Linked DNA regions of Homo sapiens: regions 1 and 3 are each linked to region 2. Evidence: fine-mapped expression QTL. A gene starts in region 2. Each other region holds a variant in brackets. All regions are shown on one strand. Distances are between the middles of the regions.

Region 1 (8,999 bases), 28 kb before region 2:
CTTGACTCTGGGAGGCGGAGGTTGCAGTGAGCTGAGATCATGCCACTGCACTCTAGCCTGGGTGGCAGAGCGAGAGACTCCAACTCAAAAAAAAAAAAAAAACATGGATTTGAAGCACCAAGGACGATGCCTGTTGGGGGCCAAGCACCCACTGTGGCCAGGCCCTAGGGACACAACATGGACAAGGCCAAGCTAGCCAGCCCTCAGAGTGCCGACAGGATGCAGAGAGGGACAAAATGCTTACCTGCTGCCCAGTAAGTCATCGGCTGTCCCAGGGAGGCACAGGGCAGTGGGAACTCTGACAGAGGCCTGGGGGGTTTCAGGGGGTGGGGGGGAGGGGCGAGGAGGTAACAGCCCAGCAGGCAGAGGGAGCAGCCTGGGCAAACATCAGGAAGCCCCGGAGACAAAGGTGAGTTCAAGGAACAAACAGCAGTTCAGGCTGGCCAGAGGGTAAAGGGCAAAGGCCAACAGGCAGAGGACGCCAGACTGCAGGGGTCAACAGGGCCAGACTGAACCAGGCCTCGTAAGCACATAACCATGTCAAGGGTGAGGACTTCACCCTGAGGTCTGGGGAGGGTGGCAGACGCCTGGCATGGTCAGGTTTTTGTTCAGCAAAGACCCCTCTGGCTGGCGTGTGTGAAGGCAGGGAGAACATGTACGGATGGGGAATCTAGGGAGGTTTCATGGTGGAGGCGACTTGGGCTGAGCCTTGGGAGGGGCAGAGTTCAGATGGCCCAGGAAGGAAGGCGGGCATTCCAGGAAGCAGAGCCACATGGGTGAAGATCTAGAAGGAGGGTGTTTCTAGGGCACTCACCTGGGGAAGTGCAGAAGTGGAAAGTGAGGGCGGAAACTCAATCCCAGGATGGGGCACCTCCCAGCAAGGGCTCAGCAGAGCCAGGCGGGCCAGCATAGCCCTGCCCCATCTGCAGCTTGGACTTGAGGCAGGGAGGTGTAGGGAGTGGCCCTGGAGGCTCCTGGGGGGTGCCCGGCCCTGCCAGACTTGACTGGAAAATCTCCAAGCTCATTGCCTCATGTCCCTACGTGCCACCCCTACAGCTCAGCCACCTTACATGGTGAGCCTCCTGTCTGCTCCACATTCCACAAAGACGGACAATACACCGCCCTCCTCCCCCAGGCCCAGCCCTGGCACTGCTCATCCATTACAGGCCCCACTTATCCCTCACTGCCGCTTTTCCATTTGCTCCATGACGTACGGCCTCGGAATCCTTATCACGGCCCTCCAGGCAGCTACGACAGATTGAATAGAGCTGGCATCCAAGAGCAAACCCATTTGCCATCCCTGATCCAATCGAATCGATCATTCTATAGAAGGGGTGACGGAGCCCCAGCGAGGGGAAAGGACCTCTCAAGGTCATAGAAGGACTTTCTTATCCAAACCCTTCTCTTTGGTGAACAGGGCCTGGAATCAACCCTTCAGGCCTTGGTGGTCCCTAAAGATGCAACTCAAAGCAAGGACCACCAACAAACACCCCAGCGCCACCCCCAACCCAGTTCCACTGAAACCACGTCAGTCCCGCAAGGACAAAGGCCACTGAACAAAGGCTGTCTGGACCCCACGCTCAGGGGCCCCTCCACATGCCCCCATCCTGAGCAGCTGGACTGCTGTCCCCATCAGCCCACAGCCCACAAAGCCCACAGCCGCAGCCCCTCTACGGTTTGAGAAAAAGCAGCTACTCACCACTGCTGGACCTCCTTCTCGGTAACTGCAAGAGAAAGCAGAAAAGTAGGCTTTTAGCTCAGGGAAGGTGTCCCGGGAGATGGGCAGACATTCGCTGGGGGGCCTCCCCTCCAGCCCTCCCCTCCCCACGGCCATGTCCCCGGGCAACGGCCTGCTCTGGATGAGAAAATGCTCCCTTGGTGAGCAGTCCTAGCCAGGGGCTCTGTACCCACCACCCCAGCAGGGGACACTGGCCCCACCCCTTCCCGGTGCCCAAGTGCTACCTGCCACTGCCACTGCCGCTGCTGGGAGAGCCCCCAGGAACGCCCTGTGGCACTCAAGGGTTTGCTTCTCCCACAGCCCTTGCTCCCAGGCCAACATCTAAGACTTACTCGTTGCCATCTCTCAATCCCTGGGGACGGGATGTCAGGGAAGGCCCTGGCTTCCCCAGGCACTCGGCTGCCCCACCTATGTGGGGGGGTGGGGGGAGCTAGGCTGAAAAGGGGCAGCTCTCAGCAGAAGGGTGGACCACCCTCCCTGTCAGCCTGTCCCTGCAGCCCCTCTCTGTGGTCAGCCCGGGCTCTTTCACTGGCAAGACATGAACAGAGCCGTGAAGCAAAAGCTGAAAGAGGCTACAGAGAGCGGCTGAGCCTGGAGCCAAGCCCACATACCCATTCTTTACTGAGCCATGAAACAAACAAAAATGCTTTTTCTGAAAAGTACAGAATCGTTTCAAGTTGGAACCAAATCAATGTTCTCTCTAAAGTCACCGAACAAGAACACCAAACCACCACCAAGGCCACCCTTGCTCCCTGCCTGTGTGAGCGCGGGACGGCTCCTCCTGCACTCCCTGCCTTGGGCGCCTCATCCATAAAGTGGGCATCATATTATCAGCACCTGCCACACAGACCTGTTGTGGGGACTCACTCATAAAGGCATGGAAGCTACTGGATCCCTGGGGATGTCAGACACCTGGAAAGGCCAGGCCTGGCGTCAAAGAATGGAATTTTCCAAGAGAAAGTTTTGGCAAAGGGTACGGCGTAGGGCCCTCAAATGTGCTCAATACTGGTTTGTGGAATGAATGAATGAATGAATGAATGAATGAACACATGAACAGACAGGAAAGGGGTGTCAGGTGGAGGTCAGATGAGTAAAGGAACTAGAATCTATTCCCAGGGAAGTGGGAAGGAAGCCCAAAGAGGTGTCTCTGAATTGTTTGTGCCTGACCAGACTTGAGGAAGCCACTTTTCAAAAACCACTCAAAGCAAGCTCGCAACAGCTGCCAAATACCAAGAGCCTGCCGCAAGCCCGAATCTGCGCCCAGGGCGGGCCTCTGTGCTTTAGCTCAACGGCTCTTATGACAGCATGGAGGGAGGATGGCACAACTCTGCCCCAGCTCCAAATGTGGAAACTGAGGCACAAAGAGATCAGGAAGTGGCAAGGCAAGGGCCTGACCTTAGGTCTGTGGCTCAGAACCAGGCAGCCAGATTCCTGGGCAGGCTAGATGCCTCCATCCCCGTGCTGGTCAGCACTCTCCTCCCACAAGCCCAAATCAGAGATGGAGGAAGAGACCTGTCTGCAAGCAGGCCTCAGATAAAAAGAGAGGAGGCAGGTCAGGCACGGTGGCTCACGCCTGTAATCCCAGCACTTTGGGAGGCCGAGGCAGGCAGATCACAAGGTCAGGAGATCGAGACCATCCTGGTTAAAGCGGTGAAACCCCATCTCTACTAAAAATACAAAAAATTAGCCAGGCATGGTGGCACGCTCCTGTAGTCCCAGCTACTCTAGAGGCTGAGGCAGGAGAATCGCTTGAACCCGGGAGGCGGAGGTTGCAGTGAGCCAAGATCACACCATTGCACTCCAGCCTGGGTGACAGAGTGAGGCTGTGTCTCAAAAAAAAAAAAAGAGAAAGAGAGAAAGAGAAGGCAACAGCGGGAGATGCCAGTTACCCAGAAACACCGGGCCTGGAGTCAAAGAAAGCAATTTTCTGAGATAAAGTTTTGGCAAAGGGTATGGGGCAGGAACGGGTTCAGGATTCGGCATGGGGGTGGAGAGGGAAGGTGTCCTTGGTCTGATCCAGGCTGGCTGCCTGTGATGGCAGCTGTGATGGCAGCTGGGGCTGTGGGGCGGATGCTGAAAGCCCAAACCTGGAGACACAGGCGACCCATCACAGTACCGCCAGGAGCTCAGGGCCACAGGTGCTAAAGCCAGACCAGACCGCCTGGGTTCAAATCCGGCCCCACAGGGCACTGTGTGTCCTTGGGCAAATTGCTTCCCCTGACTGAGCCTCAGTTTTCTCATCTGTGAAATGGGATTGTTGGGAAAACTGAAGTGCTTGCCGCTCCTCAGCTTCACAAAAACCCCACAGGGAGGTGTGACCCCGTTTTCCCAATGAGGAATTGAAGTTCCAATGGGTCTGCTTATTTGTCTGAGATCACCTGAGGTCCCTTTGCCAGGAAACAGCAGAGCTGGGACGGTGCCCCTAGAGATCAGGATGGAGGCCCAATTGGATACAACTCCTTGAGTCTGCATGACCTTGTATGACCTTGGCAAGGGGTGGCAGCATTCGACACAAACAGCAGGAACTGGGTGGCATGGCCACTGTCTCAGGCGGGCCTCACAGTGCCAGAGCGGGGCTTCCCTGGACCCCCAGCTCCGAAGTCCCACTCTCCCTTGACACCCCCCACCCATGTCTCCCAGCAGCCTTCCCCCAGGGCTCTGCCTCAGTCTCTGCGTCCTTCCTCACCCCCAACTACACTCCAAGGATGCAGCAGGGAGGTGGGAGAAGGGCATATGACTAGGGCTCCCCCCATTGGAAAGGTCCCCCCACAGAACCCTGGGTGATCAGCAGGCAGCCGAGCCCCAGGGAACCGGAGCTAGGGTGGGGGAGATAAGTCCTGCCCATGCTTTAAGCAGCAAATTGACCTTTAGGAAACAGTTGAGGCTGGCAGGTATCCCCTGGCACCCAGCCAGGGCCCAGCAATTCTAACTGCTTCACTGCCTGGGGCCTTGGAGGGCCTTTTTTTTTTTTTTTTTCTGGAGACAAAGTCTTGCTCTGTCACCCAGGCTGGAGTGCAGTGGCACTATCTTGGCTCACTGCAACCTCCACCTCCCGGGTTCAAGTGATCCTCGTGTGCCTCAGCCTCCCAAGTAGCTGGAACTACAGGCATACACCACCACGGCCAGCTAATTTTTGTATTTTTAGGTAGAGACAGGGTTTCACATGTTGGCCAGGCTGGTCTCAAGCTCCTCATCTCAAGTGA[T/G]ACGTCTGCCTTGGCCTCCCAAAGTGCTGAGATTACAGGCGTGAGCCACCACGCCCAGCCACAGAGGGTCTTGAAGGACAGCAGGCAGGACCCACATCTCTGGGGTCCTGGCCACCTGCCCCCAGCCCTCCCGCCAGCCAGGGAGCTCTGGCACGGGTCAGGCTGTCCTTTGTCCAAACCCCAGCCCCCTGCTGAGCAGCTACCACCCCAACCTGGAGAGGAAGCTGAGCCGGGGTGGAGAGGCGACCAGAGGAACGTGCCCATCCTCAGCCTGGGTTTGCCCATCACCAAGGCCTGTGTTCTCAACCATTGTGTCTGGGTTCCCAGAAGCTCAACTCTTCCAAGATCACCTTCGAGATCTTTCTCTGTCCAGTGTCCAGTGATTCACTCAGGATTTTTCTTGAAATCATCTCAATTTGCTTTTACTTACCTGCTTAATCTAGCTTCAGCCTAAGCAATAATATCCATAAAGTTACCAGTGACTGTGCTGGTCATATCTTTTCTAATACACAATAAAAAATATAACAAATTCAAAAAAAAGCCACCGTCCTTGATCAAACCTGCCCTGCCTTCGATCGTGAAATAGCCCAATATCATGTACCCCTTAATTTGATGCAGTGGAAGGGCACGTTATCCGTGAAGGTCTCCCGCCAAAAATAATTAACCTGAGTCTAACCACAAGGACATAATCAGACAAATCCGGGCTGTGGGACATTCTACAAGACCACTGACCAGGACACTTCAAGTCAGGGCCAGGAAAGGCAAAGCAAGTTGGAGGATTGTTCCAGAAAAAAAGAGTCTAAACAGACGAGGCAACCAAATGTAACTCAAGATGCCTGGATCGGGTCCAGATCAGCAGGAAAAAACTGTTATCATGGCTGTCGCTGGGCCAGCTGGGAAGCCACTGCACTGTGGACTGGTAATTAGGTGCTGCCATGGGGATGAGGTGGGGGTGGTAACAGCACTGAGGCTAATGCCCTTTTTCTTTTTCTTTTTTTTTGAGGAGTCTCCCTCTGTCACCCAGGCTGGGGCTAGAGTGCAATGGTTGATCTGGGCTCACTGCAACCTCCGCCTCCAGGGTTCAAGCAATTCTCCTGCCTCAGCCTCCCAAGTAGCCAAGATTACAGGCACCTGCTACCACGCCTGGCTAATTTTCGTATTTTTGGTAGAGACGGGGTTTCACCATGCTGGCCAGGCTGGTCCCGAACTCCTGACCTCAAGTGTTCCATCCGCCTCGGCCTCCCAAAGTGCTGGGGTTACAGGCGTGAGACGCCGCGCCCAGCTTTGGAGATATGCTCTGAGCTATTCAGGGGTGAGGGTCAAGACGCCTGCAGCCTCTTGTGACATGGTTTAGAAATATACACACTCACGTATGTAGAAAGAGAGGGGACAGATGCAGCAGAGCCGGGGACTCGAGGACACAGAGGCATCCCTGCACCACCACATCAATGTTCCTCTTGATTTTTCAAAATAAAAAGTTGAGGGAAATGTTTGTCCTCTTCACCCCATAACCACTGTGCCTGCCTCCCCTCCCCACTGCACAATGCCAGGAGGGCTGGGGGGTCCTGCCCAAGGTCCTGTGCCCCCAGCAGTTCCCGCCAAGACAGGCACTGGGAGGGAGGGAGATGGGGGACAATTTGGGGGTTCAGCTTCCCTTTGCCTCAGCCTCCACCCAGATGCCAGAGTGACCTTCCCAGGCTCTGGTTCCCAGCCCGGCCCATTTTCCCCCTCCTCCCAGAGCCTCCAACTGCATGTGAAATTAACAGGGCCTCCGCCTCTGCCTCCCTCGGTGGGTCTGGGCTCTGGGCTCTGGGTTCAGGGCTCAGGGTTCAGGGCAGGGTAGGAACGCAGGCAGTCCTTGCACAGCTTGTTCCCTGGGTCACTGGCCCGCATCCTGACCCCACTGGAGTTCCTCTGACCGTTCCAGCCTCCAGGCCTTTGTGCTCTGCCAGGAACACTTCCTCACCTCACCCGTTCCACCCAGGGAAACCCCATCCATCTTTCAAAGCCTAGCTGCGCCCGAGCGCGGTGGCTCATGCCCGTAATCCCAACACTTTGGGAGGGCAAGGTGGGCGGATTACTCGAGGCCAGGAGTTCGAGACCAGCCTGGCCAACATGGTGAAACCCTGTCTCTACTAAAAATACAAAAATTAGCCGGGTGTGGTGGCGCGTGCCTATAATCCCAGCTACCACGGAGGCTGAAGCATGAGAATTGCTGGAACCCAGGAGGCAGAGGTTGTAGTGAGCTGAGATCACCACTGTACTCCAGCCTGGGTGACAGAGACTGTCTCAAAAAAAAAAAAAACAAAGCCCAGCTGGGATGGCCCTCTTCTAGGAGGCCCTCCCGACCCTGCCTTGGCCCCTTGGGAAGCCCCCTTCACATGAGGTCTGTCTTCCCATGGGTTCCACGACAGAGGGCCAACGGGGGTCTGACCAAGGGGGCACAGGCTGGGCTTGGGGGAGCAGTGGTGAAGTACAGCGGTCCAGAGAGGGCCTTGGCCAGCCCAGCAAGCACTTCAGGCCAGGGCTCCCTCTGATCTGTGGTCTTGGATGAGTGACCCCGCATCTCTGAGCCTTGGTTTGCTCATCTGTAAAATGGGACTCAGGCATCTAGCAGGAAGAGGAGGGACTGGTGCTCGGCCCAGTGTCCAGCACCCAGCAAGTGCGAGACAGAAGCACTTCTTCCCCTCATTTTCCTAGCTGGACACTAAGCCTGCAGAGGCCAGGACACTTCTCCTGGCCCATCCTAGCATCACCCTCAGAGCCTGGCTCAGCACCCTGCACACAGGGGACAGAGAAAAACACCTGCTGATTCCTCCTTTGTCATCCAGCCACTGGGCTGGGTTTAGAACACATCCTCAAACGTGTTTCTCATGCATTGACCTTCACAATTTCATCTGGCTTTGGCCAATTTTTAAAACGAACTCTCTCCATCACACTCTGCCTCCAGGCCTGCAGGCCCAGGCTCGTACCAAAACCAGGATTTAAAACTGGCAATGGGCCATGCTCTCCATGGGGCCAGACAGGGGAAAGTTCTGGGGTGCCATCCTGTCAGGGCCACTTGAAGCCTGGGTGATTCCAAACAAGTTTCTTAACCCCTCTGAACCTCCAAGTCCTCACCTGTAGGATGGGGTATAAACTCCTACCAGGCAGAGCCATTGTCAAGGTTGTTGAGGAGTGGATGGAGAAATCAGAGCCGACACAGGGCCCTGGGAGAGGGGGGGCTGGGCATCCACTCTACTCCCCTTCACTGACCCCCAGAGAGCCAGAGCTGCAGAAGGGGAGGGCAGCTGCAGTCTCAGAGCAGAGAGTGGGTCCTAGCCTTCGCCGCACCCCCACGCCCACAGACTCCAGGCTCGTACCCCACAGCCAGGAAGCACCCGCGGTGCCCACAGCCTCCTTTCCACCCCGGCAGCGCTCCTGAGGTCCCCAGCTCCTCTACTCCAGCTCCTCCTCCCTTCCACACAGCCCTTGTCTGCCAGGAATGAACACGAGAGCCAGTCCCAGGAGCCCAGGAGGATGTTAAGTCTGATTTTGATTTCCCTAAAGCAAAACACCTCTCTCCTGATTGAAGCTCAGCTCAAACATGGTGGGAGCAAAAGGCAGGGGCTGGCAGCCCCCTCCCGGCGCTGGCTTCAGCTAGAGGCATGGACGGCAGACGGCCAGCCAATCCAGCCTCTTCCGCCATCCCTCCTGGGGCGGACCTGGCCCTGGATCCATCTCCAGGGTTGAGGGCTGCCGGAGTGTCTCTGTACCTGGCCCCAGCCCTCCACCACAGCTGAAGGAAAACCGCACCAGCAAGAGGGCCTTTGGGTTTGAGCAGCACAAGAATAGAAGGCGGGGCCTTTGGGCCTGGCCACGAGTGACCCATCTTACTAAATCAGACAGTCCCCTCGGTCCTGACACCTTTGATCACTGACTGTCCTCCTTCCAGAAGCGCAGCTGGCCTCAGAAGCTCCTCCCAGGCCCACGCCTCTCCTGTGCTCAATCTCCCAGCACCAGGGCTCCTCCAAGCGCCCAGCTCACACGCTTTCCGGGGGCGGCTCTGCTCCCTGCAC
Region 2 (10,251 bases):
TAGCCCAGCCCAGCACCACAAGGGCCAGTTCCTAACAAAGCTTTGTTGACTCAACTTCTCTTAAAGTTGACAGATCTGCCCGGAGGAGGGGGCCGGACAGGACTATCACCCCAGGCCCTTCCCATTTAGAATCCACCATCATGGGCTTCTAGCAAAAGCCAGAAAAAGACACCCAGCAGAGCTTTTTTTTTTTTTTTTTGGAGACAGAGTTTCCCTCTTGGAGCAATCTCACCTCACCGCAACCTCCGCCTCCCAGGTTCAAGCGATTCTCCTGCCTCAGCCTCCCGAGTAGCTGGGATTACAGGCATGTGCCACCATGCCCAGCTAATTTTGTATTTTTAGTAGAGATGGGGGTTTCTCCACGTTGGTCAGGCTGGTCCACCCGCCTCGGCCTCCCAAAGTGCTGGGATTACAGGCGTGAGCCACTGTGCCTGGCCCAGAAGAGCTCTTGGCACGAGCTCTGAAGTCTCTCACTAGCCTTGGAGCAGGACAGACCGGAGTTCAAGTCCTGGCACTGCCTGGTCACTAGCTGTGGGATCATGGGAATGCCACTTTGCCCCTCTGAGCCTTAGTTTCCCCATCTGTAAATGGAGATCGTAGCAGCACCCAGCCTGGTAGAGCAGTTGTGGCAGAGTCGAGGTGCTAATGATGCCAAGAGCTTGGCACGTGACATGCTCGATGAGCAGGAAACCTGGCTTCACTCCCCTGTCCCACCATGATGGAGGCATCCCGTGCAGCCCATGCCCACCACTCCTGATGGAGCCCACGGTGTCCTCACCCTCCCCCGGCACAGGGACCCAGGAAGTCCACCTGCTGGCGGCTGTGGGCCACATCTGGACTTAGCTTGAAGGAGTCCCCAGCGAATCTCACAAAACAGCAGCCAGACTGGAATGGGCCACCCACCTGCCCACCTTGGAGAGAGGGTGAGAACAGCCCCTGTGCCCAGGGGCTTCACCCCTTCCAGGTAGCAGCTCTTGGGATGTGAGCTCCATGCTGCAGGATTCCACAGGAGAAGGGCCAGCACCTCGCAGCAGACTAGCACCCGCTCAGGAAAGCCCCCTTTGTTCCAAGCATGAGGGGTGAGGGGCATGGAGCTGAAGCGTGGGCTTGGACAGACCTGCAGACGTGCCCAGAAGGCCGATGGAGTGGGGGGAAGCGGGGAGCAGAGGTTGTGCAATGCACCACCAGGAGCTGCCTCCCCAGCCTCCATCAACACATGGGGCTGGCGGTCAAGCTGCTGCCTCCAGGGGTGGTGCAGAGGGCCTGGGCCCACGCAGCTGCCCGGGGATGGGTTCTGAATTCCAACCCAAGCCCAGAACCACTGTCCCCTTCCAAGTCAAACACCCAGGCAGAGGTCCTTCCAGACCCCGATGCTGAAGCCTTCCCTCTGGCAATCCCCTGGGTGGTCTGGACCCATTACCATTAACCCCTGGTATGCCAGGGCACCTCCGGAGAGGCTGCAGGGAAGGGGGAAGCCTGGTATGGAGAAACTAGGACTGCAAGGGGACTGCAGAGTTGTGAAGTTAGGCAAGTGGAGGGAGACACACTGAGGCTGATCTGGAGACGCCCAGAAAGGACAGGCCATCCTCCTCCGGGCAGCCCGCGACAGCTAATGATCACACGCGGCCCAGATGACCCGGGCTGTAGAAACCCACTTCCCGGTGTGGCAGACAGAGATGGGGCCAGGGAGAATCCAGCCTGTAAGTGCTGCAACCCACAGGGTGCCGGGGACCCTTCACCGCCGTCACCGCACGACGAGCGCTGTGCCAAGTCTCGCCACCCCCCCCCCCACACGAACGGGGCCAGGGAGGGGGCGACAGGCCAATCTCGCAGCAGCGGCGGCGGCGGCATCGTGATGCATGAATCACCAGCCCCGCGCGCTCGTGCCAGTCGGCTCCGCGCAGCCGGGCGCCCCCTCCCGGGACCACCGCCCCACCCTGGCAACAGCCCCTGCCCGTTGGGACAGCTCTGCGGAGAGGGGGCCGCCAGGGGGCTGGGGCTGCCCCTCCGGACCTAGGGGTGGCGCCGCGCACGCCGACCGGCGCGCACTCCCCGGGCTGGGGGTGCCAGAACAATGGGGCCGGGCGGGGGGCAGGGGCGCGGCCCGGGAACCTCCGAGGGGTCCACATTGGAGGCCGGGCGGGGAGGACGGAGCGGAGGCGGCAGCGCGGAGCGGGTAGCGCGCGGGTCCGGGGGGCGGGGGCGGGGGCGGTGGGTGTGGGGGTGACCGCGGGGCGCGGGCTGGGGGCTGGGAGCACTCACAGTAGGTCTTCCTGGTCAGCTCCTCCACAACTTCGGGCTTCAACTTGCTGTTGGATTTCCCCATCCTCGGCGGCCGCGGCCCCCGCCCCCCCGGGCCGGACCCGGTTGGGGCGCCCAGCAGGAGCGGCTGGGCCGGGCGGGCCGGGCCGGGGCCGCGCCTTTGTCTGCGGCGCCCGCGCTGCGCTGCGCGGCTGTCGGCGCCGGGGCGCCCGGGGCGTGGGGCGGCCGCTGGGCAGGCCCGGGCGGTCCGGGCGCCGCGGCGCGGGGCTGCCTGGGCTGGGCGCCGGCGCCGGCGCGGTGTGGCCGCGGTCGTCCCTGGTTACTGGGCTCCGCGGCACATGCTCGCTGCTGCCTCCCGCCTGCCGCCGCCCCTGCGCTCCCCGCCTCCCGCCTCCCCCCTCCCGCCCGCACCCGCGCGCCAGGGGTGGACCCGGAGCCGCCACTCAGCGCCCGGCGCCACCTCCCGCCCCGCACCCGCCTGGCCGCGGCCTCCGCCAGCTGGACCCCGGCCTCGCCAGCCAGCCGGAGGGGCGTCCCCTCGGCTCAACGCGGCCCCAGGGCGGGGCAGCCACCCCCGCCACCCCCTCCCCGAATCCAGCCCTGGCGCTCCGGCCCCCGCCGCGGCGGGGAGGGCCCGGAAGATCGGATGTGAATGAGGCCAGGTCCCGGCCCGGAGACATTCATTCATTCGACACGGATTCATGGGGTGCCGGGGACACGGCGGCCCACGGGACAGGAGTGCCCCAGCCCTCGCAGGGCGGGCAGGGGGCTGTGCGGGATGCGGCAGGTAGCGGTGGGAGCACCTACTCTCGGCCTGGGGGCAGGAGACCTCCAAACCCAGGGTCAGGAAGGGAGGTGGATGGAGAAGCGTTCTGGCCCAGGCAACCTGGAGAGGCGGGGAGGCCTGCATGCCCGAGGGAGAGTTCCCCGGCTTGCGGGCTTGCGCACGGCTGCAGGCACAGGGGACCTGGGAGAAGGGCAGGGCCCACGGGGCAGGCCAGGAGAGGCCCCTCGCCGAGGAGCTGGGCCCCTGCCCACCAGCGCCCATGAAAGGACTTCAGCAGAGAGTGATGGGTCAGAGCTGCTGGAGTGACAGGTCAGAGCTGCTCAGAGCTGTTTCTCTGAGCCGAGGCTGGGGTGACAGGCTCCACCTGAATGGACAGAGGCCAGTGGATTCGCGTAGGGGGGTGTGGTTCAGGTGGTAGGTCCAGCATGGCCTTCCCGGTCCACCTCATCCAACATATCATCATATCTTGAGAACTCTCCTATCCTTTTCGGCTTTAGTTTCTCTCCTTCACATCCATCACAAACGTCACCTATGTTTTCTGCATCCTGTTTGTCTCTTCCATGGGAGAACACCCTCCCAGAGGGCAGAGGCATCTCCATAACCCAGAAGGCCGCCTGAGGTGTTACCCAGCAAATCTCTGTGAATGAGCGAAGGACGGAGGAAAGAATGACACCCGGTGCTGGGGCCCTGGGGTAGGGGAGAGAGCGGGGAGGATGAGGCAGCCCTCCCCGGGGCTAGCAGGGATGAGGCAGGAGTGGGGTCTCTTTCTCCCTTCTTTCCACAGTGTTCTAACCTCGGAGGGTCCAGAAAGCTCAGAGGAACCCTGAGCAGGGCCGAGTGCCTTCCAGCTCCCAAATATCTCTCCTGCCTCTAAGCATACTCCATCCACTCCTGCTTTCCCCTGAAGCCCCTGCCCAGGCTGAGCCCCAGGCCCCAGGAAGTCTTCAGATGGGGATGGACTTGCTGGCTTGGGGAGCTCATTCTGCAGAGGAGGTGGGCCCAGTTGGAGGGATCTGGTGTAGACCTGGGAGCAGAATGTCCCAACCTTGAGGACCAACTCAGAGTGGACAGCAGTGAGGGGCCCACAGTGGGGGGCTAACAGTTGACCAGACTGTGCTGAGCATCCTGCCTGGGAGGAGGGAGAGCCAGCACGGGAACCAGGGCCTGGCTGGATGACAGCAGTAGTAGTTAAAGCCCTTTAGAAACCCAGGTGCTCAGGCTGGGTGCAGTGGCTCATGCTGGTAATCCCAGCACTTTGAGAGGCTGAGGTGGAAGGATTACTTGAGCTTAGGAGTTCAAGACCAGCCTGACAGGGGAGACCTCATCTCTACAAAAATTTTTAAAAGTTAGCTGGGCTTGGTGACACATGCCTAACTCCCCGTTACTCGGGTGGCTGAAGTGGAAGGATCACTTGAACCCAGCAGGGCGAGGCTGCAGTGAGCCGTCATTGTGCCACTGCATTCCAGCCTGGGTGACAGAGAAAGACCCTGACTCTCTCTCTCTCTCTCTCTCTCACACACACACACACACACAAACACACACACATGAAAAGAGAAGAGAAAAAAAGAAAGAGAAAGGAAGGAAGGAAGGAGGGAAGGAAGGGAGGGAGGGAGGGAAGGCAGGCCAGGCATGGTGGCTCATGCCTATAATCACAGCACTTTGGGAGGACAAGGCAGGTGGATGGCTCGAGCTCAGGAGTTCAAGACCAGCCTGGGCAACATGGTGAAACCCCATTCCTACAAAAAATACAAAAAAAAATTAACTGGGCATGGTGGCACATGCCTGTAGTCTCAGCTACTCGGGAGGCTGAGGCAGGAGGATTGTTTGAGCCTAGGAGGTAGAGGCTGAAGTAAGCCCTGTTGGCACCACTGTACTCCAGCCTAGGTGATGAGACCCTGTCTCAACACACACACACACACACTCACACACTCACATGCATTCACACACACACACAAGAAACCCAGGTACTCATCCTGTGAGTATTTCTTGCTCACTGCCCCTGTGCCAGGTGCCGTGCTGGGCACTGAGACCAACATGGGAGCTCACGGATCTGACCCGACCTGCTGCACAGCGATCACAAAATCACACTGGCAACAAACACCATGCAAGGAATGGAGAGGGTGGGGGAACATACATGGGAACACCTGCCAAGGAACTCAGGGACTTCACAGATTCATCCCATCATTCGGGACATGTTTACTAAGCACCTACTATGTGCCCTGGGGACATAGACCAGATCCCTGCCATCAGGGACCTTACACTTTCGTGAGGGGAGAGTGCTATAAACAATAAACAACATGCATAAGTGCAGCATAGAAACCAGAAACACGGGGGCGCAGTGGCTCATGCCTGTAATCCCAGCACTTTGGGAGGCCAAGGCGGGCGGATCACGAGGTCAGGAGTTCAAGACCAGCCTGGCCAACATAATGAAACCCCGTCTCTACTAAAAATACAAAAATTAGCCGGGCATGGTGGTGCACGCCTGTAGTCCCAGCTACTTGGGAGGCTGAGACAGGAGAATCACTTGAACCTGGGAGGCAGAGGTTGTGGTGAGCTGAGATCGCACCACTGCATTCCAGCCTGAGTGACAGAGCAAGACTTTGTCTGAAAGAAAGAAAGAAAGAAGGAAAGAAGGAAGGAAGGAAGGAAGGAAGGAAGGAAGGAAGGAAGGAAGGAAGGAAAAGAAAAGAAAAAAGAAACCATAAATACGCTGCATGAGTAGAATGTATCTCACAGGTGAAAGAAGAAAAATGAGGCGGGAAGGAAAATGGGAAGGGCTGAGGGCCGGAGGTGTGTGGTGTTGGCTAGAGAAGGAGCCTCACTGAGAGCAGAGGGGGAGCATCGCCCAGGCCCCGTGGCAGAGCCCAGGTGGAGCCCAGCTGGCCCACGTACAGCCTTGTGTGTGGCCTTGCAGGGGTACAGTAAGGTGGGCTTTAAAGGGCGAGGTGCAGAGTGGGGAGGCAAGGTCAGACTCCCGACTCAAGGGATCTGATGTGCTTAGCCGGCCCCTTCAGCTGCTGCTGCAGGGAGAACTGACTCCAGGCACAGATGGGTAAGAATGGGGAACTGCCAGAGGTCACTGTATCATCAGCCAGGAGGTGGTGGTGGCCACGTGTAGTGTGGCCTTGGAGGACACAGAACTGGCTAGACTCGGTGACATTTTGAGGGTAGTGAGAGCAGGATTCCCTCACTGCTGTCTCCTCTGAGTTGGTCTTCAAGGTTGGGAGACATTCTGCTCCCAAGTCTACACCAGATCCCTCCAGCTGAGGCCCATCCTACCTCCTCTGCAGAATGAGCTCCTCCAGGCCAGCAAGTCCATCCCCATCTGAAGACTTCCTGGGGCCCGGGGGTCAGCCTGGGCAGGGGCTTCAGGGGAAAGCAGGAGTGGATGGAGTATGCTTAGAGGCAGGAGAGACATTTGGGGCTGGAAGGCAGGAGAGACATTTGGGGGCTGGAAGGCAGGAGAGACATTTGGGGGCTGGAAGGTATGAGACGGAGAGAGGGGACTCAAGGACAAGGCCGGGCTTTCTGAGCTGAGCTTATGGAAGAGTGGGGTTTCTATTTGCTAAGATGGGGAGTGGACAGGTTTGGACAGGAAGAGCTGGAATCTTACTGCAGACAGGTGAGGTGTGAAATGCTTACCAGATGTCCAAGTGGTGACGGGAGAAAGCAGGTGGCACAGGCGTCTGGAGTTCAGGGACAGGTCCAGGCTGCAGGTATGCACTGGGAGCCATCCTGGCAGACATGCCCTTTAAAGTCTTGAGACAGGATGAGGTCACCGAGGGAGGGAGTGTAGGCTGAGAAGGTCAGGCCAGGGAGACAGCAGGGGTGCTGACGGGGAGGTAGGAAGACCACCAGGAGGCAGTGCTGGAAGCCAGGGAAGAATGTGTTTTAGGAAGGAGGGAGAAGCATGGGAACTGCTTGGGGAAGGGTGGGGGGAGTGTTTTGGACCCCCGTGATGTGGGGACGGCATGTGGGAAAGTGCTGGGCCTTGGGACCAGCCATCCCTCTTCCTGACCTGGTTTTTAGCTGAAAAGGTCCCTGCCCACATCAGCTTAAAATGCTGAGCCTGAGCCACCACATGAAGGACTCAGATCTGCTCTCTGATGCCCTGGTCACAATCCAAGAAGCAGAGGTTCCAGGTCTTTCCACTACAGGATTTTGATGTTTAAGTGAAAAAAACGTGCAACCCAGGCTGAGCGCAGTGGCTCATACCTGTAATCCCAGCACTTTGGGAGGCCGAGGCTGGCAGATCACCTGAGGTCAGGAGTTTGAGAACAGCTTGGCCAACATGCTGAAACCCCATCTTTACTAAAAATACAAAAATTAGCCGGGCGTGGTGGCGCACACCTGTAGTCCCAGCTACTCAGGAGGCTGAGGCAGGAGAAGTGCTTGAACCTGGGAGGTAGAGGTTGCAGTGAGCCAAGATCGCGCCACTGCACTCCAGCCTGGGCGACAAGAGTGAAACTCCGTCTCAAAAAAAGAGAAAAACAACCAAACAAACGAAAAACGTGCAGCCCATCTTCCAGTTGGGGTGTCATGGCCAATTCACAGGTTAAGGGATCCTTCTGGCTGCTGTGCAGATTGGAGCAGGCAGGGTGAAGGCAGAGATGCCATTGAGGACTTGGGAAATTGAGTGGCCATTGATTAGATGTGGGTTGGAGGGACAAGAGAGGAAGGCATGACCGTGGATCTCTGGGTTGGGAAGAGCAGCCCTACAGGAGACAGAGGCGTCAGAGTGGCCCCCTGGTGGTGTCCAGGAGCCCCTGAGGGATGGATGCATTTCTCAAAATGGGGTCACCAGACGAGGACCAGGTTCAGAGAGGGGGTGATGATCTCAGCAATGGATCTGAGATGTCTGTGAAACACCCAAGGAGGATGTTGAGGTCTATGTTCAGAAAAAACAAAACCAGGCCGGGCGTGGTGACTCACGCCTGTAATCCCAGCACTTTGAGAGGCTGAGTTGCGCAGATCACCTGAGGTCAGGAGTTCGAGACCAGCCTGGTCAACATGGTGAAACCCTGTCTCGACTAAAAATACAAAAATTAGCTGGGCATGTTGGTGCACTGCCTGTAGTCCCAGCTACTTGGGAGGCTGAGACATGAGAATCGCTTGAAGCCGGAAGGCAGAGGTTGCAGTAAGCCAAGATTGCACCACTGCACTCCAGCCGGGGCAACAGAGTGAGACTCCGTATCAAAATAAATAAATAAATAAATAAGTCAAATTAAATGATTTTTAAAACCCAGGTTATAAACCGTTGTGTATAGAATAATGAAAATAAATCTCTGCACCCATGTAGGAAGCTGTCTGAAGGACAGGCTTCCAGGGAATCCTATCAGTTGTCAGTACAGGTAGATTATGAGTCACTTTTATTTTTTCTCTCATCTGCATTTTTCCTTGCATTTTTTTCTTGTGATATAATTCGCATAAATTTCATCATTTTAAATTAGCACACATTCAGCCATTTTAGTATATTTGCTATATTGTGTAACCATCACCACTAATTTCAGAATCTCATCTGTATTTTATTTTACTTTATTTTATTTTATTTTATTTTATTTATTTTTTCTTTGAGATGGAGTCTCGCTCTGTTGCCCAGGCTGGAGTGCAATGGTGAGCTCTCATCTCACTGCAACCTCCACCTCCAGGGTTCAAGTGATTCTCCTGCCTCAGCCTCCCAAGTAGCTGGGATTACAGGCATGCGCCACCACGCCTGGCTAATTTTTTTGTATTTTTAGTAGAGACGGGATTTCACCAAGTTGGCCAGGCTGGTCTCAAACTCCTGACCTCAGGTGATCCACCCGCCTTGGCCTCCCAAAGTGCTGGGATTACAGGTGTGAGCCACCGCGCCCGGGCTCATCTGTATTTTCTACAGATTGTTTTCTACAATTAAACACATTGCTTCTGTGTTTTTGTTTTGTGGTTTTTGTTTGTTTTTGAGACAGGGTCTCACTCTGTCACCGAGGCTGGAGTGCAGTGGCACAATCATGGGTCACAGCAGCCTTGACCTCCCAGGCTCAGGTGATCTTCCTGCCTCAGCTTCCCTAGCAGCAGGACTACAGGCACACACCACCACACCCAGCTAATTTTTTAAATTTTTTGTATAGATGGGGTCTCACTATGTTGCCCAGGCTGGTCTTGAACTCCTGGGCTCAAGCAATCCCTCCACCTTGTCCTCCCAAAATGATGGGATTATAGGCGTGTGCCACCACATCCAGCTCACACATTTCTTTTGAATAAGAAAAGTATTTTGTCAATTTTTTTCACTCATCCACAAATACCCCAAAGTAGAGGCCTTCTAGAATCACCAAGACTCCCCCAGGGGGCCTGTCCATGACCCAGATCCCCAGCTTCCACTCCACACACGATGAATGTCACTGAGGTTGGAGCATAGCTTGGCAATCTGCATTTTAACCCAGCCTCTAGCCCTCCCCCTTGCCTTTCAGCAAAAAGGGTCCCTGCTACGGTTTCATAAGCTCACTCTTCTGAGGGTGAGGGTGAGGGTTAGGGTTAGGTTTAGGGTTAAGGTTTGGCTTAGGCTTAGGGTTAGGTTTTGGCTTGGGTTTAGGGTTAGGGTTAGGGTTAGGGAAGCTTGCTCGGTTGCTCTTCCAGGAAGTCCATGGGGAAAATATTAAACACAGGTTGGGCAAACTCTGGATCAAATGCTCCGCTCAGTTGCTGCATCCTTGAGCCCCGGTTTCCTCCTCTGCCAGATGAACAGCCCTGGCCTATCCCCCTTCCAAGGGCTTAGTCTGTGGACCTGTAGGTAGGTGCATTACCGGGAGTATCCATTCTCATGTCACGTAAGCATCTCGAACTCAACAGGCCCTAAACATAACTCACCGCGGTCCACTCCCCACAAAAAGAATCCTTGTTCCTTTACAAATGGTCCGCTGACAACCAAAGGCTCCAGCCAGAGTCTGAAACATTCCTGGCCCTTCCTGCTCTGCAGAATCCCATCCTCTGTATGCAATCAACCACACCTTGTCCGTTGGTTTCAATTCTTAAAGAGCCCTCGGCCGGGCGCGGTGACTCACGCCTGTAATCCCAGCACTTTGGGAGGCCGAGGCAGGTGGATCACCTGAGGTCAGGAGTTTGAGACCAGCCTGACCAACATGGAGAAACCCCATCTCTACTAAAAATACAAAATTAGCCGTGCGTGGTGGCGCATGCCTGTAATCCCAGCTACTCGGGAGGCTGAG
Region 3 (10,943 bases), 64 kb before region 2:
GACGGAGTCTCGGAGTCTCGCTCTGTTGCCAGGCTGGAGTTCAGTGGCGCGATCTCGGCTCACTGCAAGCTCCGCCTCCCGGGTTCACGGCATTCTCCTGCCTCAGCCTCCCACAGGCACCTGCCACCACGCCTGGCTAATTTTTTGTAGTTTTAGTAGAGACGGGCTTTCACCATGTTAGCCAGGATGGTCTCAATCTTCTGACCTCATGATCCGCCTGACTCGGCCTCCCAAAGTGCTGGGATTACAGGCGTGAGCCACCGCGCCCGGCCGAGGGTCCACTTTTTTACCAGAAAACCCTGTCTGTCAGAACACATGCCCAGCGTCAAGTGGTAGAGCCTGGCTGGGAACCAGGTCAGATTCCACAACCTGTGGCCCCAATCACCGTCCCACACTGCCTTTCCATGCTGCCTTTGGAACCCTCTTGAGGGTCTGGGGAGTTCTGGCATCTTCACTCTAGGACCCGCCAGAGCAACGCACAATGCTGGATGCCCAGCGTGGCCACAGAGGGTGACATCGCTGCATCCACTTCTCAACGGTTGCTTCAACCCCAAAGCGGAAGTCACATTGGGCCTTCAGCTTTGCCTGGAAGGTGGTGGCGATCTGATGATTCCTTTCACTCTGAAACATGTCTGAAACGTGGCCTGTGTTTGCAGGTGGTGGTTCATTCTAACATGGGCTGCTTGATCTTATCAATCTACACGCTTCATGCGTCTTTCAAGAGCTTTTGGCCAAGAGCAATGAATTCTAACTGACAGTTATGTTCCTGAGTCCGCGCTGGCTTTTGTTGCTCTCTGAATTCGTGTTCCTTTAACAAGCTACGAAAGTGAAAACCACCACCTCCTCTGATCCCCCTCTCCCCAACATGGCAGGGCCCATGCATACTGAGCAAACACGGGGTTACTTGACCAGAGGGGGAAGAGGAGGGCTCTCCTCTATCCCAGGCTCCAGGCCAAGGGTGACTCGGGGGAGGGCAGCCACACAGACTGCCACCTCTCGGGGTGCCTGCTGGGAGCTTGCACAAGAGCTACTCATCTCCCCACCTTCCCTCCCGACGCAACCCTCCATGTGGTCAGCAACCAATCTCTAGGCCCCCTGCGCCTGGCCCATCACAGGTGCAAAAGTCAGATGAGGTGAATGAATCATTTGCCTGAATCCCTGAGCCAATGGAGGTAGGGACCCAACCGGACATGCTGCAGCGCACACACCTCCCAGGGGTCCTCAAAGTGTGATTCACAGACCCGCAGCAGCAGCGCAGCCCAGGAACTTGTTAGGAACTCAGATTCCCAGGCCCCTGCCCAGACCCTCCTAATCAGAAACTCGGCGGCTGGGCTGGCAAGCTGGGTTTGAAGCAGCCTCCAATCCAGGTGATTCTGAGACACACTTGACTTTGAGAGCCACTGATCTAGGCCAATGGTTTTCAGACATTTTTAAAGCAGCAGCCGCCCTCTCCAGATGAAACAGGCAGGTCAGGGGATGTCGTGGGTGAGGCAGTGGGCGGGGCCTCACACCACTCAACTCTAGGCCTCGCAGAAACACTCCTGCAGATTTTTCTGGTTTAAAAGTATACTCAAGGTTCTCACTTTGCACATTCTTTCTCTCTCTTTTTTTTTTTTTTTTTTTTGAGATGGAGTCTCGCTCTTGTCACCCAGGCTGGAGTGCCATGGTGTGGTCTCAGCTCACTCCAATCGCCGCCTCCCGGGTTCAAGTGATTCTCCTGCCTCAGGCTCCCATGTAGGTGGGATTACAGGCGCCTGCCACCACACCCAGCTAATTTTTGTATTTTAGTAGAGACGGGGTTTCACCATGTTGGCCAGGCTGGTCTCGAACTCCAGACCTCAGGTGATCCGCCCAACTCGGCCTCCCAAAGTGCTGGGATTATAGGCATGAGCCACTGCACCCGGCCTACACATTCTTTCTCTTCAGGAAACTGGGAAGACAACACCCAAAGCCAGAGAAAGGGTGTCACAAAGGGAAGAAACCTAAAACGAAACGGAGAAGAATGTAAACAGACAAAGCAACAGGCCCACACAGGGAGGCGAGGACAAGTCCAGGAAGCGTGTTTAATTGGCGTGACATGGACGACATACAGCAGGAGCTTGGGGAGGCTGGGGCATGCTACACGGCCCCTGTCCACCCCTGGGCCTCGCCCTGACCCTGGCCCCAGAGACACACACCGGCAGGTTCAGACAGGACGGCACCCCAAAAAGAGACTCAAAGGGGGCTGGGGAGGCAAGCAGGAAAGGAAATAACCACAACCAGAAGACATTGCCTTTTGTTTGTTTGTTTTTGCAAGCATTATACCAATTTCTCCCCCAAGTGGCAGGCTCCGGGTGGGAGGCAGCAGCAGTCCAAACCGCTACTCTTGGGCACCGTCCTCCACTTCTGTGAGGGGCTTTGATGATGACACTCACATTTGGGTCTCACCAGGCCCCTGCGAGGCAGGCCCAGCAGAGACTCTTGCTCCCATCCAAGGGATGGGGAAATTGAGACCCAATGAGCAGAACTGACTTGCGCAAAGTCCTGAAGGAAGCCAGCCACCGAGTCAGGCTGGGAGTGAGGTGGGCCTCCCTGGGGCCGGGAGCCACTGCAGGAACAGGGACAACAGGGAATGTGCAGACTGGGGAGGGCGACTCGGGGCTACCCCATCCTGGAGAAGGGGCAGAGCCTGAGCCTGGATGCTAAGATGCCAAGACAGAAGATGGGACCAGCTGTTTATTCAACAAAAGCCTTTTATTCATTCAAAAATTAACCATTGGGTTTATTCCGCAGATATTAAAAAAAAAAAAAAAAGAGGGGGGCAAGGCTTCCCATCACAGTGCCCTTAAGTTAATTCACTTGCTATCCAGGGATGGCCTAGCAGAGGGGTGTCTGGGAAACGCTGCCAGAAATGTGGTGGCCCAGGGCCTCTGAGGACTCACAGCCCCCTCCTCGCCTCCCCGCTCCAGCCTCCCTCCGGACCACCCGTCCGGTGGGGTTGCAGCCCCCAGGTGCGTTGGCGGCTTACCACCACCAGGGGGCGCGCCGCGCTTCCTTAGCTCCCTTAAAATTAAATGCTGAAACCGCGCTGGGAACAGGGTGACTTTCCGCCTGGCGGGTGGGCAATGGAGGCTTTTTCCAGAGACAGCCTGCCTCTCCAGGAAGGGATCCCAGGCATCCCGACCTCCCCACCAACCCCCTCCGAAAAAACACAAAGTTCCTGAAACCCCAGGTGCACTTGTCTAGGAAACGGGCTGTCAAACTGAAAAGCATTTCAGGGGAAGAGATGTCAGTACAGAGGGTGACACGTACGCTTGCCTTGATGTTATTTTAAACGTGGCCTGCTTAGATCATGGAAAATCGGAACATTCTCCTAAGTCACCATCAACACAAAGTGAGGAGCAGACGCTACGAGGAAGAGGACAGGCCGTGGCCGACTGGCCGCCTGGGGCTGGTGCCTGCCCTGGCCCCAGTGCGAGGCTCTGCAGAGGGACTATGGGCGTGCCCTCTGCATCAGAGCATCTGAAGCGAGCCGCATTGGGTGGCAAACGCCGCTGTGGAGAGGCGCACGGGCTGCTCAGGAGGCACCTGGCTCAGGATTCTGCGGCATCACTGCAGCCAGAGGCCTGGGGAGAGGAGGGGGCAGAGATCGGTCCCTGCCAGGCAAACTCTAGTGAAAATGGCCAGTGTCCAGCACCCCGCCAGGGCCGGGAAGGGCGGCCCTTCCGGCAGCTCTGGGCTGGCTCGGGCTGTGGGCCCACCGGCATGCTGGGCTGCGGTCCGCAAGCATACCATCTGCTAAGGCCAGAAGCCACACCTGTGGCTTCAAACCAAAAGGCCAAAGGGCAGGACGATGGAGGAAGGCCGGACACACCGAAGGGGTCCACATGCTTAAGCCCAGACACCCTCAGCCACAGGTCAGGTTGTACAACAGTGTCAGTCCCATTGGACCAGAGAGGCAAATCGAGCCTCAGGCAGAGGCCAAAGGAAAGTAATTTGACCTGGGAAAGACCTCCCTCATCCTCTCAGCCCAAAGCCACCATGTTCGTTCCCTGCCCCAGACCCCAGGTCAGAGCCCAGCTGAGAAACTTCAGCCGTTGGTGCTGAGTCCCAGGTCGCCCGGGCCAGCAGCTGAGCAGGGAGCCGACTGGCAGGGGCCTCAAAGAATCCACCCTTCAAAGTGGCCTGTGAAGGTGGAACCACTGACCCCATCCCTGCAGGATGTTGGTGGGGGAGGGGGGGTTACCGTGGGGCCAGCGTGCAGTCCTAGGGGGCTGCCAATGAACGCCTCAGGGGGGACGCTGGGGTTGGCTGAATGCTCCAGCCAAGGGGAACAGCCACGCAGCCCCACACGGCAACGTCACTACGGCAGAGGCCTTCCTCGGGCTGGAGGCCTGCTTGCTGAGGGTGGGAACCGAGGACCAAAGTGTCCCCTCTAAAACATGGGCTGATGGGCTGTTGACTCTGCAAAGCAGCAGCAAGAATTCTAGACCCAGGCCTGGCCCTGACAGTCTGGGAAGCGGCTTCTCACCTCAAGCCTTCCCTGTGCAAGGACTCCTTCTGGGTCCCAAAGAGCGCTCAAGGGTCTGGGGGGAACCAGGAAATGCTGCGGGAAGGGACAAGGTGTGCCACATGACACATTCATCTGCTGGAACTGACCCCACACACCAGCAGCCACGCAATAGGGGCTGTGCTGTGACTCAGACAGTCCCTCGGGCTGCTGGGGTCAAGCAAACTTAACCACAGCATCACCAGCCACAGGAAACTGAACCCCAGGCCTAGAGTGACATGATGTCGGCATGGAAAAGGGCCTTCAAGACCAACCAGCCCGGGCCTCCTCGCTCTGCAGATGGGGCAACTGAGACCCAGAGAGGGCAGGAGGCTGCCCACAATCAAAGAGCAAGGGCCGGACCTTGGGCTCCTACCTCTGGTCCAGGGTGGCCTCGCATTCCTGGTGATGGTCCTGGGGCCGCACCTGCCTCAGTGGCAGGCACCGCTGGAAGCCTCCGTGAAGACATGTGGGCCGCAGCCCCAGGTGTAGGGACTATATTGATGGGATTGCCTGGAACTCTTCTCTCCTTCCCTCCCTCCCAGCCTTTGAGCCAAGAGAAGGCCAGGGAAGGACACCATGCAGTTTACTGGAAAAAGCAGATAGGAAGGAGGGAAGGCAGAGCGGGAGAGAGTCATGAACTATCTTGAAATCCCCTCCCCAGCCCAAGGAGGCGGGGGTCCCCTTGATTTCTGCTAACTTACTTCAAAGACCACCTCTCCTGACTCTGCCTGGGTACCCAATGCCCCTTCTTCCAGCTCCCAGCCTTAGGCGCCCTGTTTTCCATGCTGCGGCAAACACCAAAGCAAGAGTTGAGAAACCTAAAGATGTCCCCTGTTCATCCTCGGAAAAAATGTTACGGACCCAGGGGAGAACAAGGATGCGGGGACAGAGGCAGCAGGGAAAAGGGGTTTGGCAGGAGGCATTCGGGCTGGAGGGAACAGTGCATTAGCCATTTAGGAATTTCCACCTCTCCCCTCTCCAAAAATCAAGCACAGTATCTGAAAAAAAAAAAATTTTTTTTGGCTTCTTGGCCGCTGCAGGCCACCATCCTCCCAAGTCGGCGTGGGCAGGTGGGTCAGGGCGTGCACATGTAAACGGTGGGCCCGCAGCCCTGGGAGCTGAGGACACACCAGGCAGCAGCAACAGTTAACAACCAATAAATTAAAGATATCAATTATATATGTATATAAAAAAAAACCTCACTTTCCCCACAAAAAGCACAATACTGTTATCACAAAAAAAATCATCATCCTCATAATTAATCATCCTAGCCACGCAGGTGGTTTTGCTGCCAAAAGATGGGACGACAAATAACGTTGAC[C/T]AGGCAGAACCCCTAGACACCCTCGGCCCACCCACAGCCTCTCCGGCTGCCGAAGGACGAGGGACGAGGGCAAGGCAGAGTTCTCTGAGGTCCCCAGGCCTTCACCCCATCTGTCAGTCTGTGTCTTCTAGGACAGAAGGTAGTTGTTTTTTTTTCTTTTAAAACGTCTGTTCAAAATAAAAAACAAAAGCACACGCGCAAGAGAGCGGGAGGAACGGAGGCTGCCTGCGAGGCAGCCAAGTCCTTGGTTTATGCAGAGGGCTGTAGCCTTTTCCATTTCGTGTTGTCGTTTTCCGGACAAGCAGAGGTTGCTGGCAATTGGAGCCGGTGGCTTCAGGCGGGGGATGGGTGCAGGACAGGGGAGAGGAGAGCCGGGGCCTCCCGGGTCAAGGGCAGCCGGCTGTGTGTGGATGCGGAAGAAGGCTGGGTGGACGCACGGGGTTGGTGTCAGGGCTGAGGTGGCCTCATGGCACAGAAGGAGGTGAGTGGTTCCCAGGCATCTGGAAGACACAAGGAGGCAAGATGGGTTAAGATCCAGCCACAGCGGATAGGGGTTAAGGTCTGGCCACGGAGGATAGGCACAGAGAGCTGGCAGGAAGGTCGATAGATGGCAAGCTGGCATTCTATGTCAGAAGTCCTAAAAATGTGCATAACCTCTGAGGCACCCTTTGGGTTTTTTGGTTTTTTTTTGTTTGCTTTTTTTTGAGTTGGAGTCTTGCTCTGTCACCTGGGCTGCAGTGCAGTGGCATAATCTCGGCTCACTGCAACCTCCACCTCTTGGGTTCAAGCGATTCTCCTGCCTCAGCCTCCCAAGTAGCTGGGATTACAGGCGCCCGCCACCATGCCTGGCTAATTTCTTTTTGCATTTTTTAGTAGAGACAGGGTTTCACCATCTTGGCCAGGCTGGTCTCGAACTCCTGACCTCATGATAGACCCGCCTCGGCCTCCCAAAGTGCTGGGATTACAGGCGTGAGCCACCGTGCCCAGCCTATATTTATCCTTAATAAATAAATGTTTACCACTGCACCATCTGTAATAGCAGAAAACAGAAAACAAAAATGGAAGCAGAGAAAACAATCTAAGTGTCCAGTATCAGAGGAGTGGTGGGATACATTAGGACACACCCACAGGATAAAACAGTTTACAAACCATTAAAAACAACACATAGAACAGTCGATAAACACATGAAAAGATGCCCAACATCCCTAGTCATTAGGGAAACACACATCAAAGCCACAGGGAGGGCCAGGAGTGGTGGGTCAAACCTGTAAATCTAGCACTTTGGGAGGCCAAGGCAGGAGGATCGCTTGAGGCCAGGAGTTCAAGACCAGCTTGGCCAACACAGTGAAACCCGGTCTCTACCAAAAATACAAAAATTAGCCGGACGTGGCTGCGCACACCTATAATTCCAGCTGCTTGGGAGGCTCAGACAGGAGAATGACTTGAACCTGGGAGGCAGAGGTTGCAGTGAGCCGAGATTGCATCACTGCACTCCAGCCTGGGAGACAGAGTGGGACCCTGTCTCAAAAAACAAAAACCACAACAACAACAAAAAACCACAGTGAGGCAACCACTTCACACCCACTAGGATGGCTACCTTTTTTTTTTTTTTCATGGAAAATAACAAGCGTTGGCAAGGATGTGGGAAACTGGAACCTCTGTCCTTTGCTGGTGGGAATGCAAAATGCTGTCACTAGTTTGGAGATCAGTTTGGTGGTTCCTCAAAAAGTTAAACATAGAGTTAACCATATGACCCAGCAACTCCACTCCTAGGTATATACCCAAAGAACCAAAAATCCATACTCAGGCCAGGTGAGGTGGCTCATGTCTGTAATCCCAACCCTTTAGGAAGCCAAGGTACGCGGATCACCTGAGTTCAAGAGTTCGAGACTAGCCTGGCCAACATGGTGAAACCCCATCTCTACTAAAAATACAAAAATTAGCTGGGCGTGGTGGTGTGTGCCTGTAATCCCAGCTACTCAGGAGACTGAGGCAGGAGAATCGCTTGAATCCAGGAGGCAGAGGTTGCAGTGAGCCAAGATCACGTCATTGCACTCCAGCCTGGGCAAAAAGAGTGAGACTCCACCTCAAAAAAATAAATACATAAAAAATAAACAAAATTAAAGTTTTTTTTTTTTGAGATAAAATCTCACTTTATCACCCAGGCTGGAGTGCGGTGGTGCAATCTCAGCTTACTGCAGCCTCACCCTCCCTGGTTCAAGCAATCCTCCTGCCTCAGCACCCCTAAGTAGGTGGGACTACAGGCACCCGCCACCACACCCAGCTAATTTTTGTATTTTTGGTAGAGACAGGGTTTCACCATGTTGCCCAGGCTGGTCTTGAACTCTTTGGCTCAAGTGATCCACACAGCTCGACCTCCCAAAGTGCTGGGATTACAGGCGTCAGCCACTGCACATGGTCTAAATAAATTTAAGAGACCTATCAACCTATTACAATGGGTAGACTTTATTCTGATTCTGATTTCAGTAAACAAAGTTAAAAAAAAAAGAGTAAGATAACAGGAAACTAGAATAGCAACTAGAGATCAGAGGATATTAAGGAATTATTGATTGCTTTTGCTTTATGAATTTTTCAAAGAATCTTTATCTTTTAGAAATACATTTTGAAATGGATTAAGTATGATGATGTCTTGAATTTGCTTCAAAATCACAAGAGTGGGGGTGGGGGGGGAGGGCACAGATGGTACAAGATTGGCAGGGAACTGGGGATTCGGAAGCTGAGTGATGAGTACAAAACATTACACTTTTTTTTTTTTTTAAAGAGACAGAGTCTTACACTGTCACCTAGGCAGGAGTGTAGTGGTACAATCCTAGTTCACTGTAGCCTTTAACTCCTGGGCTCAAGGGATCCTCCTGCCTCAGCTTCCTGAGTAGCTGGGACTACAGGCATGTGCCACCACACCTGGCTAATTTTCATATTTTTTGTAGAGACAGAGTCTCTCTATGTTGCCTAGGCTGGACTCAAACTTCTGGCCTAAAGCAGTCCTCCCACTTCGGCCTCCCAAAGCACTGGGATGATAGGTGTGAGTGACCACAGGCGCCCACTCAGCATTACACTATTCTCTCTGCCACTGTGTATGAATGTTTCCATAACAGATAATTTGTTTTGTTTTGTTTTTCAGACAGAGTCTCACTCTGTCACCCAGGCTGGAGTGCAGTGGAGTGGTTTTGGCTCACTGCAACCTCCGCCTCCCAGGTTCAAGCAATTCTCCTGCCTCGGCCTCCCAAATAGCTGGGATTACAGGTGCCCGCCACCACACCTGGCTGATTTTTGTATTTTTTGTAGAGACGGGGTTTCACCATGTTGCCCAGGCTGGTCTTGAACTCCTAACCTCAAGTGATCCACTTGCCTCAGCCTCCCAAAGTGCTGGGGTTACTGGCATGAGCCAGTGCGCCTGGCCCATAATAGATAACTTTTTAATCCCTTCCCCAAATTCCCAACAACCTGAGTGTCCAACACTGTGGAACTGGTTAAATTATGGCCCAGCCATGTGATGGAGCATTATGCAGCTATGAAAAATGATGGCTCAACATTTAATGATGTGGAAAATAAGCCTCATCTCAGTTTCTGAATAAGTCAATGACTTACATCACTGCAAGTGATCTAGGAATTATGAGCTATCAGGAACCTGAGGAGGCAAATAAATCATTAAAATGATAGAACACAAATTGGATATAATCACTACCGCGTAGGCACAAGGAACAGCCCTATAGAAGAAAGAAGGCCATTTCCCAGCAGAGCTAATAGAAAGGGGGATCATATCATGCGAGGGCTCTTGTCACTTTGACAAGCTTGTCATGGAAATAATATGACATGGTGATTTGCAAAAGAGGACTGTGAAAAATTAGACAACGGATCAGCATTCACCATGGGACATGTCAAGGTACACGTCAAACATTTCTATGATGGAAATATTGGCCAGGCGCGATGGCCCACACCTGTAATCCCAGCACTTTGAGAGGCTGAGGTGGGTGGATCACAAGGTCAGGAGTTCGAGACCAGCCTGTCCAACATGCTGAAACCCCATCTCTACTAAAAGTACAAAAATTAGCCGGGCGTGGTGGCAAGCACCTGTAATCCCAGCTACTTGGGAGGCTGAGGCATGAGAATTGTCTGAACCCAGGAGGCAGAGGTTGCAGTGAGCTAAGATCACGCCACTGCACTCCAGCCTGGGAGACTCCATCTTGGAAAAAAAAAAAAAAAGAAATATTAATAACAGTGATAGTTCCTTTATAAATTGGTTTTAATTATATAATTTCTGTGTGACTCAGTTTACTGAGTGTTAAGTTTTGTAAGTGTTCAATTCTTTTAAAATCACTCTGGACACTAAAATGTTCACTGTGATTATATCTGAGTCATACATAAGGGGTTTTTTTTAAAATAAACTTTTTAATTGAGGTTTTCTCATTAAACATATTTTCAATGTCTCTTCAATGAAAAAGGATTTCTTGTGAAAAATAATAATAATAATAACAGACGCTTCAAAACAGTGTAGGCCTGGCCAGGCATGGTGGCTCACGCCTGCAGTTCCAGCACTTTGGGAGGCTGAGGTGGGTGGATCACCTGAGGTCAGGAGTTCGAGACCAGCCTAGCCAAGATGGTGAAACCCCATCTTTACTAAAAATGGAAAAATTAGCCAGGCGCCATGGTGGCAGGTGCCTATAGTCCCAGCTACTCGGGAAGCTGAGGCAGGAGAATTGTTTGAACCCAGGAGGCAGAGGCTGCAGTGAGCTGAAATCATGTCACTGCACTCCAGCCTAGGTGATGGAGTGAGACCCTGTCTCAAAAAAAAAAAAAGAAAGAAAGAAAGAAAAAAACAGTGTAGACCTCCTAAACAAAATGCCAACAAATCAAATTTTATGATACATAAAAAAATAACACATCACAGCAAAGTGGAGTTTATTCTAAGAATGCAAGGTGACTTAGCATTCAAAAACCAATCTATGGCTGGGTGCAGTGGCTCACACCTGTAATCTCAGCACTTTGGGAGGCCGAGGTAGGAGGATCACTTGAGGTCAAGAGTTCCAGACCAGCCTGGGCAACATAGTGAGACTCTATCTCTACACTACA

Evidence for each region.
Region 1: its variant is fine-mapped to the expression of NCS1 in tibial nerve (GTEx, PIP 0.96).
Region 3: its variant is fine-mapped to the expression of NCS1 in fibroblasts (GTEx, PIP above 0.99). The same link has a PIP of 0.9 or more in esophagus muscle and tibial artery.

What each region holds. Positions count from the first base shown.
Region 1 is chr9:130,193,683-130,202,681 of GRCh38, reverse strand. NCS1 (neuronal calcium sensor 1) reads right to left here. Exons shown (of 8, transcript NM_014286.4): 2 at 1,700-1,724. Among named protein-coding and RNA genes, the nearest start is that of NCS1, 26 kb to the right of the region's middle. RefSeq lists enhancers at 4,461-4,960, 4,961-5,462. The variant T/G (reference allele first, on the strand shown) is at 4,942.
Region 2 is chr9:130,164,739-130,174,989 of GRCh38, reverse strand. It overlaps NCS1 (neuronal calcium sensor 1), which reads right to left and starts at 2,586. Exons shown (of 8, transcript NM_014286.4): 1 at 2,263-2,586. The coding sequence starts at 2,326. RefSeq lists enhancers at 312-1,222, 2,684-3,472 and silencers at 2,520-2,609, 8,088-8,291.
Region 3 is chr9:130,228,399-130,239,341 of GRCh38, reverse strand. It overlaps NCS1 (neuronal calcium sensor 1), which reads right to left. Exons shown (of 8, transcript NM_014286.4): 8 at 2,039-6,352. Among named protein-coding and RNA genes, the nearest start is that of MIR12126, 7.5 kb to the left of the region's middle. RefSeq lists an enhancer at 1,831-2,390. The variant C/T (reference allele first, on the strand shown) is at 5,853.